Regions from separate parts of the Homo sapiens genome. Here region 1 is linked to region 2. The links come from fine-mapping of genetic effects on gene expression. A gene starts in region 2. The other region holds a variant in brackets. All regions are shown on one strand. Distances are from middle to middle.

Region 1 (2,916 bases), 190 kb before region 2:
CCAGCCATGCAGAACTGTGAGTCAATTAAGCCTCTTTCCTTTATAAATTACCCAGCCTCCGGTAGTATCTTTAAGGCAGTGTGGAAATGGACTAACACACTGCCCCTGGTTCTGATTTCCTACTCACTAAGCAATTCTCTGATTGCTGAGGAAAATTTTCCAAGGTAATGAATGTGTCCTGATATAACCTCTAAAAGAAGACAGCCAGGTGAATAAACACCCCATCAGCTTGTGGTTGCCTTCCTTGAATTTCTGGAGAAACAATAGCTGTAATTTATTGAATGACTTACTCTGCAGCAAGCACTGAACTGGGTACTTTTCATTAGTTAATTCATTTAATTTTCACAGTAGAAATGATATTACTTGGAGATATTTCCATCCAAACTGGTTAAAGGAAAAAGTACAAAAGAATGAATGAAAGAGATTGTGCATTAATCTGGAAAAATATGTCCATTTTAAATACTTACTGCTTAAAATCTATAATGTCATATTCTGGCTATAGTGCCATTACATATAATGTTTACATATTTATCTCACAAGATTAAACACTGTTTTTCTAAGTAGAATTTCATGTGCATTCCCCAGCTCATTAAAAAGAATTCTAGTTTCCCATTTAAGATAATATTGTAGTAAATCCGCTTAACCAAGCTCTTTATAAACTCATATTGTCATAATCCATGAAAGTGAGTGAACCGCGAGGATGCTGCTGTTAACCACTCCATGCTGTAGAATCAGAATTCCTGAATTCCATAGGCATAAGGCATGTGCCTGTCCAACATCCAGTATCAATTTATGTATGAGATATTAATAATACTGAACTTCTGTGTCTATGTTGATATCATCTCTAGCCTTACAAACACAGAATTCTAATACTTTTCCCATACTCCAGTGGAATGTCTTTCATATCCCCTGGGGTACATGCTCTACACTTTATCATTCTGCTTGGCAGAACAATATTTCCTAGTGTAACAAAAGACACTGTTTATTGATTTATTTTTCCTCCCATATTTTAGAAGGCTCCTGTCCATTCTAAAGTTAGGTTCAATAACCTAGCATCCTCCCAGCGCCTGTTTAGTCATAATAATTGCTCAGGTATGCTGGATATTGAAGACAGAGTTGAAAGAATGGTTCACCAGTAGACACAGCAGGACATGTGTGACCAGGATCAGTTCATTGTGGGGCCTAGAATAATGAAAGGTAGTGAGAGAGTACATTCAATCTGAGATGAAAAGATCTGGACTCAAGCCCTTGCTCTATTACCTATGATCTTTGTGCTCTTTAACCATCCTCCCCCTTTATAGATTAATCAAATAAGACTTGCCTCGTCTATTTCACAGGCTTGTTTCAGATACAGTGCAGATGACCCTAGTGGCAGATACTGTGGATTGCCTACCCAAAAGACATTCACAAGCCATTTTCCCCTTGTCTTCCTGTGCCTAAAATAATTACATTCCAAGGATCTCTTGCAGCTAAGGCTGGCCACCAGATT[C/G]AGTTTTGGCCAACGAGAGGTCAGGCAAGGGAGGCAGGCAGTCACTGAGTGAGCCTCCAGAAAAGTTATGTACAAGAAGTAGAGTCCATTGGCATGCTGCCTTCATTGCTTACCCTCCAACCCACTTTTCACAAAGTAATCAGAGTAATGTAAAACAGTAAAGCAGCCAGCCGCAGTGGCTTACACCTGTAATTTCAGCACTCTGGGAGGCCAAGGTGGGTGGATCACTTGAGCCCAGGAGTTCGAGACCAGCCTGGGAAACATAGCAAAACCCCATCTCTACAAAAAATACAAAAAGTAGCCAGGCCTGGTGGTGCATGCCTGTAGTCCCAGCTACTCGAGAGGCTGAGGTGAGAGGATCACTTAAGCACAGGAAGGCAAGGCTGCAGTGAGCTGGGATTGTGCCACTGCACTCCAGCCTTAGGCAACAGAGTGAGACCCTGTCTCAAAAAAAAAAAAAAAATAGTAAAGTACATCTTGCCATCACCCTGCTGAAACACTTCAATGGCTTTCCATTGCAGCTAGAATAAAATCCAAGCTATTTACAATGGACTGGCTCCTGCTCCCTCTCCAGTATCATTCAGTCCGTTCTCCCCCACCCACTGTACTCCAGCCAGACCTTCTGTTCCTCAAACTTGCCAAGCGTTTTCCTGGATCCAGGCCTTTATACCTGCTGATTACTCTGCCTGTTTGCCTCTAGCTCTTTGCATAGCTTCTCTCTGTCACCCTTCAGCCCTTGACTCACACCGCCCTCATCAGAGGTGCCCTCCTTGACCGTCATGTCTCAGAAGGCCTCCTCAACTTATCTGCTGTCTTACCACCCAAATTGTTTCATTGTTATCCCTAATCCACAGTTATTTTGTGTATTTGTTATTCCTCTGTCTTCTAACACTGTAACATAAGCATCACTGGGGAACAGCCTTTGCCTGTCTTGTTTATTGCTACATCCTTAGTCCCTTACACAGTGCCTGAAACATAAGGGATGCTTGTTTAATATTTATAAAATAAAAGAATGAACTTTCCCTATGAATCTCCATCTCCTAATTTATTCCTCTTCATCAAAGGAAATGCAAGGCTAAACATGAGTGCATAATGGGAATAACAAGTGTTAACACAGGATTTGTGTGATGAGTGGATGACTTCCAGGAAAAAGCAATCAGAGGAGCCAATTTGGTGGTAAAAAAGGAAAGAAAGAAAAAGGAAGGAAGGAAAGGAAGGAAGGAAGGAAGAAAGAAAAAGAAAGAAAGAGAGAAAGAGAAAGAAAGAGGGAGGGAGGGAAGGGGGCAATTGTGATTGGATGAGAGCAGAAAGTAGCGGAAAATGCTGTGTCTGCATTGTCAACCAATAGCAATTTGGATTGCCACAGCTACAGACACCTCAGGAGGTCTTGGAAGAAGGCATGGGGAGGAGAAGGCAGCCTAATCAAG
Region 2 (2,854 bases):
CGGGCGGATCACTAGGTCAGGAGATTGAGACCATCCTGGCTAACATGGTGAAACCCCGTCTCTACTAAAAAATACAAAAAATTAGCCAGGCGTGGTGGCGGGCACCTGTAGTCCCAGCTACTTGGGAGGCTAAGGCAGGAGAATGGCGTCAACCCAGGAGGCGGAGCTTGCAGTGAGCCGAGATCGCGCCACTGCATTCCAGCCTGGGCGACAGAGCGAGACTCCGTCTCAAACAAACAAACAAAAAAAAGTGCTAACACTTGAGAAAATCTCCATATGAACCAGATATTAGACAATATTAGAGAATGATTGTTATAAGTATACAAGACGATGTCCTTATTCTTAGGAGATGCTTGCTTAAGTATTTAGAGATGAAGTTTTTTGTTTTTGTTTTGAGACAGTCTTCCTCTGTTGCCAAGGCTGGAACTGCAACCTCCACCTCCCGGGTTCAAGCGATTCTTGTGCCTCAGCCACCCTAGTAGCTGGGACTACAGGCGAACACCACCATGCCTGACTAATTTTTGTATTTTCAGTAGAGACAGGATTTCACTACGTTGGCCAGCCTGGTCTCGAACTCCTGACCTCAAGTGATCCATCTGCCTCAGCCTCCCAAAGTGCTGGGATTACAGGCATGAGACACCGTGCCCAGCCTAGAGATAAATTTTACATCTACAACTTACTTTTATACAAATGTATATATACATATACATAGGGAGAGAGAAAGCATATATGGCAAATAAATATAAGTAAAGGTTTATGAGTGTTCCTTGTTCTCTCAACTTTTCAGTTTCATTTTTTTCAAAATAAAGAATTGTGAAAAAGAGATTAAAGATAAATTGCTATTCTAAACTTATGTTACAGTTCTACCTGCACACCAATTAGTCTTTTTAAGGGTTTAAAAGTAACTTTTTTCCTAAAACTATTTTACAGCTCCACCTACACTCTTAGTCTTAAAACAAAACAAAATTCCAGTAAGAATTTCAAGGTAACAGTTTTGCGACACTGCATGTGACTTTCTAATGTTTTTCAAAATGAATTCACTAAATCTGTAGGGCATATGGACACTTTTGTAAAATCAAAGTTAGTTCAAATGGATGATTATTCATTTCTAGAAAAACTGAATCCCCAGAGTTGTTCTACTTTTCAAACAGGTGAAATAAATTATAACTGCGGGGGAAAAGGCTAACACTTTCACACACACATCCCAAATTTTAAAAGTCTTAAATTTGGCAAATACAGTTAATTCTATCATAAGGAAACGTTTGCGTGAAAGGGGGAACCCACATACTAAATGCCAAACAAAAAATGTGCTACAATGTGTTAATTATAGCTCCAAGGCTACAGGACATATTTTACAATGTAAACAGTCCCTGCAAACATCAATGCATTTATGGTTTAAAAAAATACAAACTGCACACATTTGAACCGTAGGGAATAAGTCTGAGCTAGCGTCAACAAAATCCATCTCAAAAGTTCTTATATTCTCATTTCTCTGGTAAGTTTTTGCATGTGTTAATATACTTCAGTGTATAAGAAAAGTCTAGGTCTGCAACGTTTCAACTAAAGACTCAACTTTTTACTTCCTACCGAACCGCCCCCTCGCAATGGGCCCCACCTCCCGAGAAGAGTGACGGGGTGGGGCTGTTTCCCGCTCGGAAACTAAGAAATAAATGCCTCATCCCTACTCCAGAAACGAGAACAACGGAGGCAGAGGAGCTGAAGACTCCAGTATGCAACTGACTACAAGGAGGTAGTCGTTTGAAAAGCTTTCTTTCCTTCTCTGAACTCCTTCTTTCCCTCCTCTCAGGTCATTGGGTGACCCCGGGCCGGGCGGAGACAGGTGAATCCCAAGAGAGGAGGAAGAGGGAGGGACAGATGATGGAGGGAGAACCGCGTTTAGGCAATGAATGAGCCTGCTGCATCCGCACCACCTGTTCCTTCCAAGGGTGCCACCCCGACCTGCCAGCAGGGTTCCCACACCAACCGGGCCGCGACTCCTGCCGGTGTCGCCCACTTGCCCGCCAAAGGCCGGGCCTCTTCTCCCCCAGATCGGGGAGAATGAGAACCGGCAGTCTAGAAGCCGGGAGGTCGGGGCCTAGTCCGGAACCAGGGCCTCAAGCGTGGGGATGGAATGAAGAAGCCTGTGGTCCCTGGCGCGCGGGCCATAGTAGGAACCACAGAGAGGGAGCAAAGCAATGCATTCGGCCTGACGAGAGCTATGAAGGCGGGGTCCCGGGCGGGAGTGGCTCAGTGCCCGCCGGGCCGAGGTTAGGGGTGACAGGCCCGGTTACCGGCTAAATCCTCCCCACCGCTTGCCCGGAGCCTCACACTTACCAAGATCCGCTTGAAGAGCGCATTCTCCTTGGGCGGGAGGCTCACGGCCGGCATCGTTCCGGCTGCTCCCGCTGCTCCCGCCACCACCCGGCTCGGTCAGTCAGTTTGTCCGACCGCCGCCGCTGCCGTTCCGTAGCTGCTTCAGCCTTGAATATCTCGATCCGCCGCCACCACCAGGCCTCGGGTGTCGCCGCGTTGCCCTACCCGGACACCTCCTTTTTCCTCGTTGTCTTTTTTCCTTTCTCACTTAACGCTGCCGCCGCCTCCCCCACTACGGGTCTCCGTCGGCGGTTCACGTGGTAACTGAACAGACCGACAGAGGCAGCCAAAATGGCGGACGCGGAGGGTTTTCCCACCCGGGTCACGCTTCCTAACACGCAGGCGCGGTGACCTCCTTTCCCCACCTCCTCTGGGTTTCGGAGCTTGCCGGGAAACCTGGAGGCTGGCCTGCCTGTGGAGGCCGGGAGGGTCGGGGCAGGCCCCGCCCATCATTTCAGTGCGTGGTACCCTCGAAGCGCCC

Direction of the effects. Alleles are on the strand shown, and positions count from the first base shown. SD is a standard deviation of normalised expression in the study named.
For the expression in esophagus muscle of the gene that starts at base 1,689 in region 2, allele G in region 1 goes with a lower level than allele C (small effect, 0.18 SD a copy in GTEx).

Evidence for each region. PIP is the estimated chance that this variant, and not a neighbour inherited with it, causes the effect.
Region 1: its variant is fine-mapped to the expression of NDUFC1 in esophagus muscle (GTEx, PIP above 0.99). The same link has a PIP of 0.9 or more in breast, sigmoid colon and tibial nerve.

What each region holds. Positions count from the first base shown.
Region 1 is chr4:139,492,577-139,495,492 of GRCh38, reverse strand. It overlaps a transcript of SETD7 not described here. Among named protein-coding and RNA genes, the nearest start is that of RAB33B, 40 kb to the right of the region's middle. The variant C/G (reference allele first, on the strand shown) is at 1,490.
Region 2 is chr4:139,301,312-139,304,165 of GRCh38, reverse strand. It overlaps NDUFC1 (NADH:ubiquinone oxidoreductase subunit C1), which reads left to right and starts at 1,689. Exons shown (of 6, transcript NM_001184989.2): 1 at 1,689-1,750. NAA15 (N-alpha-acetyltransferase 15, NatA auxiliary subunit) reads right to left here and starts at 2,661. Exons shown (of 20, transcript NM_057175.5): 1 at 2,335-2,661. The coding sequence starts at 2,388. RefSeq lists an enhancer at 2,611-2,670.